Regions from separate parts of the Homo sapiens genome. Here region 2 is linked to region 1. Evidence: fine-mapped expression QTL. Tissue or cell type: tibial artery. Region 1 holds a variant in brackets; the other region holds the start of a gene. All regions are shown on one strand. Distances are from middle to middle.

Region 1 (7,517 bases):
AGGGTGTGCTTCTAGTAGGGCAGGTTCCCATTTTGAGTGAGACATTTTTTAAAAAAAATATTTTTGTAGAGATGGAATCTTGCTATATTACCCACACTGGTCTTGAACTCCTGGCCTCAAGTGATCCTCCTACCTCAGCTTCCCGAAGTGCTGGGATTTCAGGCACGAGCCACCGTGCCTGGCCTTAAGCAAGACATGTTAAAGGCAGGCGTAGCCACAGGTGCTGAGTGTGTGGCTCTCACCTGTGACTCTCAAGGCTTCCCCACCCCATGGAGTCCTGGCTCTGTCCCAGCAACAGGGAGCATGGCAGTGCCCACAGGTGTGTGGATCCAGCACCACCAGGGCCCAGGAGTGGTGGTCCTTCCCTAAAAGGAATAACTCCAGTTTTTTTTTTTTTTTTGCTTTGTTTTGTTTTGTTTTTTGAGGCAGAGTCTCGCTCTGTCGCCCAGGCTGGAGTGCAGTGGCACGATCTCAGCTCACTGCAAGCTCTGCCTCCCGGGTTCACGCCATTCTCCTGCCTCAGCCTCCCCAGTAGCTGGGACTACAGGCGCCCACCATCACGCCCGGCTAATTTTTTTGTATTTTTAGTAGAGACGGGGTTTCACCATGTTAGCCAGGATGGTCTCGATCTCCCGACCTTGTGATCCACCCGCCTCGGCCTCCCAAAGTGCTGGGATTACAGGCGTGAACTCCAGATTTTTTAAATAACCTATTTTCATTGTGAAATTTGGGAAATTAAAGCACAAAGAAGAAAACAAAAACCATTAGCCGAGTGGTTAAGTTAATCTGTAACATTTCACAGCCCCATGATAGAATTCCTGCCGATGTGGAGCTCGGCCAAGGCAGTGAACGGCATCAAAACTCCAAACACTTTTAGTCCCTAGGAAGACCCTCGGTTAAGATTTCTCCCCAGAGTGCCCGGGCCCTTTAGTCCTACAAAACCAAGGAAAGGGAGGCAGCATAGCTGCATCCGCCAGGGGATGCCCACCACCCACCTGTCCCCCGGCTCTGCTCCAGCATCCGTCTGTCCTCTTTAGTGCCATATTTCACCCTCAGCCCCAGTGCAGGTGCCCGCAGCCAAGCCCACACCAGCTCTGGGGCACGCCTGTTCCAGTTGCATTTGGATACTTTTGCAGGTGTGAGAGTTGGGTGCTAAACGTTGGGAGGTTTGTTTATATTAAAATATAGAGGTAGGTGGGGCACAGTGGCTCACATCTGTAATCCCAACACTTTGAGAGGCCAAGACAGAAGGATCACTTGAGGCCAGGAATTTAAGAGCAGGTTGGACAACATAGTGAGATTCCCCATCTCTACAAAAAAAAAAGAAAAAGAAAAAATTAATGGGACATGGTGGCATGCACCTGTAGTCCCAGCTACTTGGCAGGCTGAAGCAGGAGGATCGCTTGACCCCTGGAGGTTGAGGCTGCCTTGAGCTGTGATGGCACCACTGCGATTAGGTGTGGTGGCTCACACCTGTAATCCTAGCACTTTGGGAGGCCAAGGTGGGTGGATCACCTGAGGTCAGGAGTTCGAGACCAGCCTGGCAAACAGGGTGAAACCCAGTCTCTACTAAAAATACAAAAAATTTAGCTGGGCATGGTGGTGGGTGCCTGTAATCCCAGCTACCCGGGAGGCTGAGGCAGGAGAATTACTTGAACCCGGGAGGCGGAGATTGCACTACAGCCTGGGACACAAGAGTGAAACTCCGTCTCAAAAAAAAATTAAATAAATAAAAATAGGCCGGGCACGGTGGCTCACACTTGTAATCCCAGCACTTTGGGAGGCCGAGGTGGGCAGATCACGAGGTCGGGAGATCGAGACCATCCTGGCTAACACGGTGAAACTCCATCTCTACTAAAAATATAAAAAATTAGCCGGGCGTGGTGGCGGGCACCTGTAGTCCCAGCTACTGGGCAGGCTGAGGCAGGAGAATGGTGTGAACCCGGGAGACGGAGGTTGCAGTGAGCCGAGATCGTGCCACTGCACTCCAGCCTGGGTGACAGAGCGAGACTCTGTCTCAAAAAAATGAAAATAAATAGGCCGGTTGTGGTGGCTCACTCCTGTAATCCCAGCACTTTGGGAGGCCGAGGGTGGTGGATTACCTGAGGTTAGGAGTTTGAGACCAGCCTGGCCAACATGGTGAAACCCCGTCTCTACTAAAAATACAAAAAAATTAGGCAGGCATGGTGGCACACTCCTATAATCCCAGCTACTCGGTAGGCTGAGGCAGGAGGATTGCTTGAGCCCGGGAGGTGGAGGTTGCAGTGAGCCAAGATCGTGCCACTGCACTCCAGCCTGGCTGACAGAGCGACTCTGACTCTAAATAAATAAATACATACATAGATACATGGTAACTTAGTTCCCTCTCTTTCTTTTGTATTGACACCAGATTTACTCAATACTGTTTTAGTTTGTCAGTCCAATAAGATGAGAAAATAAGTATGAGATGCAACTTGGAATTAAAGTGATCAAATGTTTGCTCTGACAGATAAGCTTCAGCACCTGTTAACTTGGAGAATCAAGTGAAACTCCACCGGCTTCATGTGGAAGCTCGTCAGGCAGCATCACAACATGTACATAACCCAAGAGCCGTTCTGTACAAGGTTCTCCTTAAAATATAATGGGAGGCCGGGCGCGGCGGCTCATGCCTGTCATCCCAACACTTTGGGAGGCCGAGGTGGGTGGATCATGAGGTCAGGAGTTCGAGACCAGCCTGGCCAACATAGTGAAATCCTGTCTCTACTAAAAATACAAAAATTAGCTGGGTGTGGTGGCGCACACCTGTAGTCTCAGCTACTTGGGAGGCTGAAGGAGGAGAATCACTTGAACCCAGGAGGCAGAGGTTGCAGGGAGCCGAGATGGCACCATTGCACTCCAGCCTGGGTAACAGAGCAAGACTCTGTCTCAAAAAATATATATATATACAGGCCAAGGCAGGCAGATTGCTTGAGCTCAGGCATTCGAGACCAGCCTGGCCAATATGGTGAGAATCGCATCTGTCCCCAAAGTACAAAAAAATTAGCTGGGCGTGGTGGCACACGGCTGTGGTCTCCGCTATTCTGGAGGCTGAGGTGGGAGGATCGCTTGAGCCTAGGAGGCGGAGGCTGCAGTGAGCTGAGATCACACCACTGTTCTCCAGCCTGGGCAACAGAGCAAGAACTTGTCTCAAAAAAAGAATAAAACTAAACTAAATCTGTGCAGAGCTCTGCCCACAGCCGATACATACGCTGCATTCCTTGAGGCCTTGCTGTCTCCGCTCCTTCTGTCTATGCCCCGTCCTGCCTCTCCATCCTCAGGGACAGGACCGGTGGCGAGGGGCCCCCGGCCACCCTGGGCTGGGACGGCATCTGCTGGGGCTGCTGGGTCAGGCCTGATGCTTTTTGTTTTCCCCAAGTGTGCAGCTGGTGCTGAGAGGTGATGGTGCTGCTTGTCCCCACACAGGAGGAGGAAGGTGAGGACGGCGATCCATCGTCAGGGCCCCCAGGGCCGTGTCACAAGCTGCCTCCCGCCCCCGCTTGGCACCACTTCCCGCCCCGCTGTGTGGACATGGGCTGTGCCGGGCTCCGGGATGCACACGAGGAGAACCCTGAGAGCATCCTGGACGAGCACGTACAGCGTGTGCTGAGGACACCTGGCCGCCAGTCGCCTGGGCCTGGCCATCGCTCCCCGGACAGTGGGCACGTGGCCAAGATGCCAGTGGCACTGGGGGGTGCCGCCTCGGGGCACGGGAAGCACGTACCCAAGTCAGGGGCGAAGCTGGACGCGGCCGGCCTGCACCACCACCGACACGTCCACCACCACGTCCACCACAGCACAGCCCGGCCCAAGGAGCAGGTGGAGGCCGAGGCCACCCGCAGGGCCCAGAGCAGCTTCGCCTGGGGCCTGGAACCACACAGCCATGGGGCAAGGTCCCGAGGCTACTCAGAGAGTGTTGGCGCTGCCCCCAACGCCAGTGATGGCCTCGCCCACAGGTGAGCGTGCGCCTGTCAGTGAGGAGGGGGCTTGGGGTGAGGCTGTGTCCCTGCAGAAGGCCAGAACCTCCTCATAAAACTCAGGAAACCCAGGACCGCCAGCAACAGGCAGGAGGCCCCTCTGCTGGAGGGAGTGGACTGGGCCCTGGGTCAGGGGAGTCCACGCCGTGACCTCAGGTGGGAGATGAAGGTTAGGGGACACAGCCCGACCCTGGCTCCCGCTCTGGCCCTCAGTCTTCAGGGGGTGAGCAGTGACTGCCTGTGTGTTTAGAGAGGAAACCAACCCCCAGACAGCACCAGGACAGCGGGCAGGGGACAGCGGGTGGGGGACAAGCTGGCGGGGGACAGCGGGTGGGGGACAAGCGGGCAGGGGACAGCGGGCGGCGGCTGCACCACGGGAGCCTTACAGATGCCAGGAGGGGGCCTCGCAGACGAGGAAGGGGCACAGCCTCGGCCACCGGAGGCCAGGGCGACTCGCAGCTCTTGCCCTTGCAGTGGGAAGGTGGGCGTGGCGTGCAAAAGAAATGCCAAGAAGGCTGAGTCGGGGAAGAGCGCCAGCACCGAGGTGCCAGGTGCCTCGGAGGATGCGGAGAAGAACCAGAAAATCATGCAGTGGATCATTGAGGGGGAAAAGGAGATCAGCAGGCACCGCAGGACC[G/A]GCCACGGGTGAGCACCCCGCACGCAGCCAGCCTCGTGGGGCCTGCTTTGCCACCCCTGGCCTCCGCACAGTCTCAGTGTGTGCAGCTTCAGTGTGTGTGGCGAGTGTCGCCTGTGACGCCTCACACTTCCCCTGTCACTGTGGCACCCTCCCGGGCACCCTCCAGCAGGCTCCCTGGGCCCCACGTCTCCAGGAGGAAAACCTCATGTCCCCAGAGAGAGGCTGTCCCTGAAGCCCCGAGCAGGAGGGAAGCTGACGTGGCTGTCACCCCGCAGGCAGCACAGATGCTCTCGGGAGGTCATTTCCAGTCTGACCCCCACATGAGAATGACCTAAGTCACCTGGGAAGGCCCCCACTGACCATCACTCCCGAGGTGCCCACGGAGGAGCCTTCTGTGCTCACACCTGGCCGTCCTGCTGAGGGCTGGGGAAGGCTCTTGTGTAGCGTGAGCACTTCTCTCCTCCCAGAAGGGCAGAGGCCTCGTGTGTGGTGTGGAGCAAGGCCCCGGCGCCACAGGTCCAGCCCCTGCCGCTGCCCGCCGGGCCGGTCTTGGTGTTGCTCCTGCTCGCCCCCTGGGCCTGCACTCGTGCCCGGAACCCAGCAGGAGGGCCAGGGGCCCCACAGAGGTGGTACCCCCCACCTTCCTGTCGTGGTCAGAGGCAGGTCAGCTGGGAAGTGTTGGCCCTGGTGGGTGGATGGCCCCAGCTTCCTCAGACTTAGGTCCTGATCTGCCCCCCACCCTCACCCAGGCCCTGGCCAGGACGCATCTCCCTCCACATTACTTGATGAGAACTTGTGAGGCAGCTGAGCGCCTGGGGCGTGGCCCTCCTGCCTGTGTTGGAAGCCTGTCCCGCAAGGCCTTGGGGTCCCCATCGGTGCTGACTGAGGTGGGGACGGGCTCATCGTTTTTCTGGGGCTCCCGAGGGAACAGGGGTGCACAGCACCTTGCCTGGCTCATTTTTTGTAGAGGGGGTCTCAGTGTGTTGCCCAGCTGGGTCTCAAGCTTTTGGGCTCAAGTGATCCTCCCACCTTGGCCTCCCAAAATGCTGGGACTACAGGCATGAGCCACCATTCCTGGCCTTCGAGTCTTTTTTTTTGAGACGGAGTCTAGCTCTGTCGCCCGGGCTGGAGTGCAGTGGTGCAATCTTGGCTAACTGCAACCTCCACCTCCTGGGTTCAAGCAATTCTCCTGCCTCAGCCTCCCGAGTAGCTGGGATTACAGGCGTGAGCCACCACGCCCGGCTGATTTTTGTATTTTTAGTAGAGACCGGGGCAGGGGGTGGTTGCCATGTTAGGCTGATCTCGAACTCCCAACCTTTGGTGATCCGCCTGCCTCGGCCTCCTGGAGTGCTAGGATTACAGGCGTGAGCCACCGTGCCCGGCCGAATCCTTTTTTTAAATAGCTGTATATACTAAATATTGCATGTCCCATATTTTAGGATAAGTATTAATACATTCCACTTTGAGACATACTTATACTTTTTATTCATTAAGACTTTTTTTTTAATTTTTTGCGACAGAGTCTCCCTCTGTCACCCTGGCTGAAGTGCAGTGGTGTAATCACACCGTTCACTGCAGTCTCAGCCTCCTGGACTCAAAGCTATCCGCCGGCCTCTAGGATTAGTATATAATTTGTATCCCAGTAAAGCTGTTAAAAATAAAATGTAAAAAAAGAAGCCTCATCCCAGCACTTTGGGAGGCCGAGGCAGGTGGATCGCTTGAGGTCCGGAGTTCGAGACCAGACTGGCCAACATGACAAAAACTCCATCTCTACTAAAAAAAATACAAAAAATTAGCCGTGTGTGGTGGCGAGTGCCAGTAATCCCAGCTACTCGGTGGCTGAGGCAGGAGAGTCGCTTGAACCTGGGAGGCGGAGATTGCAGTGAGCCGAGATCCGAGGTCGAGCCATTGCACTGCAGCCTGGGCAACAAGAGCAAAACTCTGTCTCAAAAAAAGAAAAAAAAAAAGTCTCCATGAAAGAATTTTTTTTTTTTTTTTTTGAGACGGAGTCTTGCTCTGTTGCCCAGGCTGGAGTGCAGTGGCCTGATCTCAGCTCACTGCAAGCCTCGCCTCCCGGGTTCATGCCATTCTCCTGCCTCAGCCTCAAGAGCAGCTGGGACTGCAGGCGCCCGCCACCACGCCCGGCTAATTTTTTGTATTTTTTTAGTAGAGGTGGGGTTTCACCGTGTTAGCCAGGACGGTCTCGATCTCTTGACCTCGTGATCCGCCCTCCTCAGCCTCCCAAAGTGCTGGGATTACAGGCGTGAGCCACCGCGCCTGGCCTTTTTTTTTTTTTTTTTTTTTTTTTGAGATGGGGTTTCGCTCCTGTGGCTCAGGCTGGAGTGCAACAGGCCAGTGTCAACGCACTGCAACCTCCACCTCCCAGGTTCAAGTGGTTCTCCTGTCTAACCCACCTGAGTAGCTGGGATTACAGGCACCCACTATTATGCCCAGTTAACTTTTTGTATTTTTGTAGAAACAGGGTTTCACCATGTTGGCCAGGCTGGTCTTGAACTCCTGACCTCAGATGATCCACCCGCCTCGGCCTCCCAGCGTGCTGGGATTACCGCGCCTGGCCATTTTTTTTTTTTTTTTTTTTTTTTGAGATGGAGTCTCACTCTTGCCTAGGCTGGAGTGCAGTGGTGCAATCTCAGCTCACCGCAACCTCTGCCTCCCAGGTTCAAGCGATTCTCCTGCCTCAGCCTCCCGAGTAACTAGAATTACTGGTATCCACCACCACACTTGGGTAATTTTTTGTATTTTTTGAGTAGAGTCATGGTTTTGCCATGTTGGCCAGGCTGTTCTTGAACTCCTGACCTCAGGCGATCCACCCACCTTGGCCTCCCAGAGTATTGGGATTACAGGCAAATGAGGGTTGGTTTTTTGTT
Region 2 (5,892 bases), 100 kb before region 1:
TCCGTCTCAAAAAATATGTATAAATAAAATAAAATAAAAATAAATAAAAAATAAAAGAGCCCTGTTAAAATACACCTCCCATATTGCTATACGGCAATGATTTAAAATGAAAATTCGGCCAGGTGCCTTGGCTCACACCTCTAATCACAGCACTTTAGGAGGCCAAGGCGGGCGGATCACCTGAGGTCGGGAGTTCGAGACCAGCCTGACCAACATGGAGAAACCCCGTCTCTACTAAAAATATAAAAAATTAGCCGGGTGTGGTGGTGCATGCCTGTAATCCCAGCTACTTGGGAGGCTGAGGCAGGAGAATCACTTGAACCCAGGAGGCGGAGGTTGTGGTGAGCCAAAATTGCGCCATTGCACTCCAGCCTGGGCAACAAGAGCGAAACATGGTCTTAAAAAATAAATAAATAAATAAAATGAAAATTCATAAAATTATAGTATTTTATTTAATTTATTTATTTATTTTTTATTTTTTTTGAGATGGAGTCTCGCTCTGTCGCCCAGGCTGGAGTGCAGTGGCATGATCTAGGCTCACTGCAAACTCCTCCTCCCAGGTTCACACCATTCTCCTGCCTCAGCCTCCAGAGTAGCTGGGACTACAGGCACCTGCCACCACGCCCAGCTAATTTTTTGTATTTTTAGTAGAGATGAGGTTTCACCGTGTTAGCCAGGATGGTCTCGATCTCCTGACCTTGTGATCCACCCACCTCGGCCTCCCAAAGTGCTGGGATTACAGGCATGAGCCACCACACCGGGCCTATTTATTTATTTTGAGACAGGTTCTTGCTACGTCATCCAGGTTGGAGTGCAGTGGCACCATCACGGCTCACTGCCGCCTTGACCTCTTGGGCTAGAAGGATCCTCCTGCTTCAGCCTCCCCAGTAGCTGGGACTACAGGTGCATGCCAGAGTGCCCAGCTAATTTTTCATCTAGTTTTTCTAGAGAGGGGTATCGTTTTGTTGCTCAGGCTGGTCCTGAACTTGTGCTGACACAAACTTGCAAAGTGCAGTGGGGGAAAGGGTATTTCTGTGTCTTTTGACAGAAATGGACAGAAGTAGATACAAGAGAGAAAAATACCCTGGCTTAAACAAGATAGAGGTTATAATTTCCTCTCTCCTAAGCCCTGCATGGCACTAATATCAAATATGATACCTGAGATTCAGCAAGCTACGTCGGGATAATATGGCTTTTTTATTTATTAGAGATTTTCTTGTACGCATTAAATGTGTACTGATCGGTATGACTGGCACAAACTGTACCAGATGGATGGCAAACTTTTGCTGATCTCCAAGTTGCCTTTCCTATTCTTAATTATTAAAGATTAATTTTGGGCCAGGTGCAGCGTCTCACTCCTGTCATCCCAGCACTTTGGGAGGCCGAGGCAGGTGGATCATCTGAGGTCAGGAGTTCCAGACCAGCCTGACCAACATGGTGACACTCACCTCTACTAGAAATACAATTAGCCCAGCGTGGTATTGTGTGCCTATAGTCCCACTTGGGCGCACTGAGGCTGAAGCAGGAGAATTGGGAGGCTGAGGCAGGAGAATTGCTTCAACCCAGAATGAGACTCCGTTTCGAAAAAAAACTTTTTTTTTTTCCTGCAGAACACTCAGAGAGAATTGTCAATACCTGTCCTTGGAGAACATAATTTAAAACTTGTTTTCTTTTTTTGAGATGGAGTTTCACTCTTGTTGCCCAGTGCAATGGTGCGATCTCGGCTCACTGCAACCTCCACCTCCCGAGTTCAAGTGATTCTCCTGCCTCAGCCTCCCAAGTAGTTGGGATTACAGGTGTGCGCCACCACACCCGGCTAATTTTTTGTATTTTTAGCAGAGACGGGGTTTCACCATGTTGGCCAGGCTGGTCTCGAACTCCTGACCTCTGGTGATCTACCCGCTTCGGCCTCCCAAAGAGCTGGGATTACAGGCGTGAGCCACTGCTCCTGGCAAAAGATCAAAATTTTAATAGAAACTTGAAAATGTTGCCAATTGAAAAAAAGAAAAGGAAAAAAAAAAAAGGATCCGCCCATTAGCCGAGTGAGGGCAGGTGACCGGGGAGGATCGACCTTTGCCCGGGCTGCCTTCTCTTGTGAACACCAAGGCGTTTGCAGGAAAATGAAGAGCTGCTGGGCAAAACCTGGCATTCCTGGGCCTTCTGGGTCTTCCGGAAAAATGATTTCAACCTAAAATTTTCTGTTAAGAAAGAGGCCAGGTTGGGCCGGGCGCGGTGGCTCACGCCTGTAAATCCCAGCACTTTGGGAAGCCGAGGCGGGTGGATCACCTGAGGTCAGGAGTTCGAAAAGAGCCTGACCAACACGGTGACACCCCCTCTCTACTAAAAATAAAAATTAGCCGGGCTGAGGCAGGAGAATCGCTTGAACCCGGGAGGCAGAGTTTGCAGTGAGCGGAGATCGTGCCACTGCACTCCAGCCTGGGCGACACAGCGAGATTCCGTCTCAAAAAAAAAAAAAGAAAGAAAAAAGAAAGAAAGGAGCCAGGCAAGACAGGTTTCCTAACACGCGAGCCCTCGGGGACCACGTGGGGGCGCCGGCGCCCGCGGACCGGACCCCGCACCAAGGCTGCGCTCGCTTCCCAGGCCCCGCTCACCGCAGCAGGTCCGGGCAGAAGAGGTGGCGGTACGCGGGGAGACAGTCGTCCCCCTCCACGTCGGGCGGCGGCTGGGCCATGGCGCTCCCGTCGGGGACTGCGGGGACAACGGGCGGGAGCGGCCTCGGCCTCCAGGACCCGGCGCGCAGCTGCGAACTCGCCTGGAACCGGGAGCCCCGCCCCACTCCCCGGACGCCCCGCCCCTGCCCTGATTGCTTCCCGGAGGCCCCGCCCCTCCCCCGAATTCTCCCCGGAGGCCCCGCCCCCGCCCGCGGCCTGCTGGGACTGGAAGTCGGCGCGCGAGGCGCAGGCGCATTGCGGGGCCGGGGGCGCGGTTCCCGCGGCAGAAGCTCGGCGGTCTGCGGGTCTCCTCCCCGAGTCTTTTTCACAGGTATTCGGCGTCAGCGCCGCGTTCAGAGCCTCCAGGACTTGTGGGATACCCCTGGCTCCTGGGTCCAGGCCAGGCTCGCAGCCTCTGGGCTCCCCGTTCGCCTCCCCGTAAACACCATGGGGAGGGCCGGGGCCCAGGGAAGCGCGGCCAGCCCCGCGCCGCTTCCCAAAATGACCCGTTTTGAGGCCAATAAAGAAGGGTCCGGGGCCGGGCGCGGTGGCTCACGCCTGTAATCCCAACACTTTGGGAGGCCGAGGCGGGCGGATCACGAGGTCAGGAGTTCGAGACCATCCTGGACAACATGGCGAAACCCCCTCTTTACTAAAAATACAAAAATTAGCCGGGCATTGTGGCGGGTGCCTGTAGTTCCATCTACTCGGGAGGCTGAGGCAGGAGAATCGCTTGAACCCGGGAGGCGGAGGTTGCAGTGAGCCGAGATCGCGCCACTGCACTCTATCCTGGGCGACAGAGCGACACTCCGTTTCAAAAACAAAAACAAAAAAAAAAGGGTCCGTTACTTCTGTTCCGCGTGGGGGCCCGGGCGGGGCTATGCCGCGAACCCAGGACGGGGCGCCCCGCCCGCACCACTGTTGGAAGACGGGGGTCCGCGACGGCCACGGGGGAAAAACACGCAGGGCCGCTCCTGAGCTGAACACACCCGCGGGCCAGCGGCTTCAGGGGCGTGACAGAGCCGCCAGCGCTACAGTAATGGCTGCCAGGCCCTTTCTGCGCTGGTTGGCCTCAGCCCGCCGGCCCCTCTCTGCCCCTTCCCCGGGAAGGCAGCTTCTCCTTTGGCGGGATCACAGCACCGGCTCGCGCCTAGCTTGGGTTCTCCGGATTGCAGGCTGGTGGTCTCTGGACCCCTGCCTGGCTCATACATCCAACAACGTTATGGAACTGGGTGTGCAAAACTTCCTCTTTACTGTTCAACTCCTTACAACTTGCATAAAGGCGTCATTTCTACCTCAGAGCTGGGGGAAGTCATAATTAGTGTACCACCCATGTGCTGGGCACAGTGAATTTTAATGCCTCCCCTTTAGAGGAGAGGTTATGATAATGTGAAGACCCCCCCCCACCACAAAGGTTGTCCGGCACTTTGGTGCAAAAAGGATTGGTCCAATCTTGTGCTGGCTTGGGGTACAGAAAGGCACTGAAGTTGGTGGCTCAAACTCCTCTGGGCTGGGGTGGGGCAGAGGTGAACAGGGAAGTAAGTGGTTTGGGACAGGCAGGTTTGGATGTGGGCTTGGGTTCTTGCTGACGGAGGTAGTTGGTCCTGCGTGGGGGATGGGGTGGTAAGGGCAGCTTGAGCCTCAGGCTGGGTGGATGCTGCTGTGCTGGCCCCCGTCTGCCCAGCTCACCAGCTCACTGCTCTGGAACCACAGCTGGATCTCCCGCTGGGCCCCCTCCACGGAGTCGCTGGCGTGGATGACATTCCTGTGCCAGGACAGGAGCAATGTGAGGCTCAGGCTTCATGTGCACCCTGAGGAATCCCAGGGACCATCTGCTGCTCCCGTTGCCCTCTGTCTAGGGGAGCAAGCCTGTGACTGCAGACAGGGAAGGAGTAACAGTGGAGCTGGGAAACCGGGTTCCAGCCTGGCCTCGGCCTCTTACAGCCTCGTGGACCCGCCCAGGCCCCAGCTTTTGGGAGCCTCATTTCCCCCCAAGTTGCCCCGTGCCAACCCCTTGGGGTGTCAGGTAACAGGCAACGATGGCACGGTACACACAACACAAAGGGAACACCTCATTGCCCTGTGTGCCCTGGGAGAACACGGCTCTCACCAGTGTGAGCTGTCATGTCCGACCTGGCTTCATCCTAGCACAGCAAGACAGCCAGGTCTCGTGGATCTGCCACCACCCCAAGTGATGGCCCTCCTTGCCCCCAGCAGCAGCCTGGTGTATCAGGACCCCCGTACCTGCTGATGTGGACGCTGAAGTCACCCCTTATGGTTCCTGGGGCAGCCTCAGCCGAGTCGGTGTGTCCAATCATGGCCCTCGAGGCGCGGACGACATTGTACCCTTCCCAGACCTGCAGCGAGAGATAATGGTTGGGGAGAAGTGGGGAACACCAAGGGCCCCTGGGCTCAATCCAGGGCCCCTCCCTTTGCTGGGGGGAAAGACACACCCACACGCCCTTTACCCACAGGCCCTTCCACCACCCCTGCCCTGCCGTACCATGGCCACCACAGGCCCAGAGCTCATGTAGCGGATGAGGGCAGGGTAGAAGGGCTTCCTCCGCAGGTCCTGGTAGTGCTCGGCAAGGACGCTCTCTGGTGCCTGGGTGGCATTGAGGTAAGGAGGAGCCGCAGACAGTAAACGTGGGCACTAGCACAGCAGCTGTGATGCCCTGACCTCAGGCACCTTGCAGATAACACCAGCATGGGCAGCACCCCCACCGCAGAATAGATCCCTCCTGCCCCTTCAACTGCCAAAGCCAGGCCCTGCCCCGGCGCTGGCTGGGATGTGAAAGGCCGAGAAGGATCCCCCAACCCCATCCCCACAGGGACACCCACAAGCCCAGAGTCCCACTACCTGCAGCATCTTCATCCCCACCAGCGTGAAGCCCCGCCTCTCAAAGCGCTGGATCACGTCCCCAACGAGCCGCCGTTGCACGCCATCGGGCTTCACCGCCACCAGGGTCCGCTCCCGGGTCCAGGAGGGCCCTCCTTCAAAAGGCAAGAGGTCAGAGGCACTGCCACCTCACCCTTTCACGTCCCCACGACCCGGGTTTCCCAGCCAGAGCCCAGGGGTCACCAGGCTTCAGGGTGTCTGCCTCTATGCAGGGCACTCTGGAAGGGACAGGGATGGTGCCCACAGCCACAAACACCCCCATGATAGTCCCTGTCAGGGACACCCAAGGCAATGTGTCCCCAGGGCTTCTAGCCTCTCCCA

Evidence for each region. PIP is the estimated chance that this variant, and not a neighbour inherited with it, causes the effect.
Region 2: it holds the start of DECR2, and the variant in region 1 is fine-mapped to the expression of DECR2 in tibial artery (GTEx, PIP above 0.99).

What each region holds. Positions count from the first base shown.
Region 1 is chr16:294,176-301,692 of GRCh38, reverse strand. It overlaps AXIN1 (axin 1), which reads left to right. Exons shown (of 11, transcript NM_003502.4): 6 at 3,442-3,971; 7 at 4,467-4,637. Among named protein-coding and RNA genes, the nearest start is that of PDIA2, 15 kb to the right of the region's middle. The variant G/A (reference allele first, on the strand shown) is at 4,630.
Region 2 is chr16:398,764-404,655 of GRCh38, reverse strand. DECR2 (2,4-dienoyl-CoA reductase 2) reads right to left here and starts at 2,771. Exons shown (of 9, transcript NM_020664.4): 1 at 2,613-2,771. The coding sequence starts at 2,692. NME4 (NME/NM23 nucleoside diphosphate kinase 4) reads right to left here. Exons shown (of 5, transcript NM_005009.3): 2 at 5,533-5,666; 3 at 5,176-5,277; 4 at 4,917-5,029; 5 at 3,902-4,437. The coding sequence ends at 4,314. RefSeq lists enhancers at 3,206-3,791, 3,639-3,948, 4,962-5,547.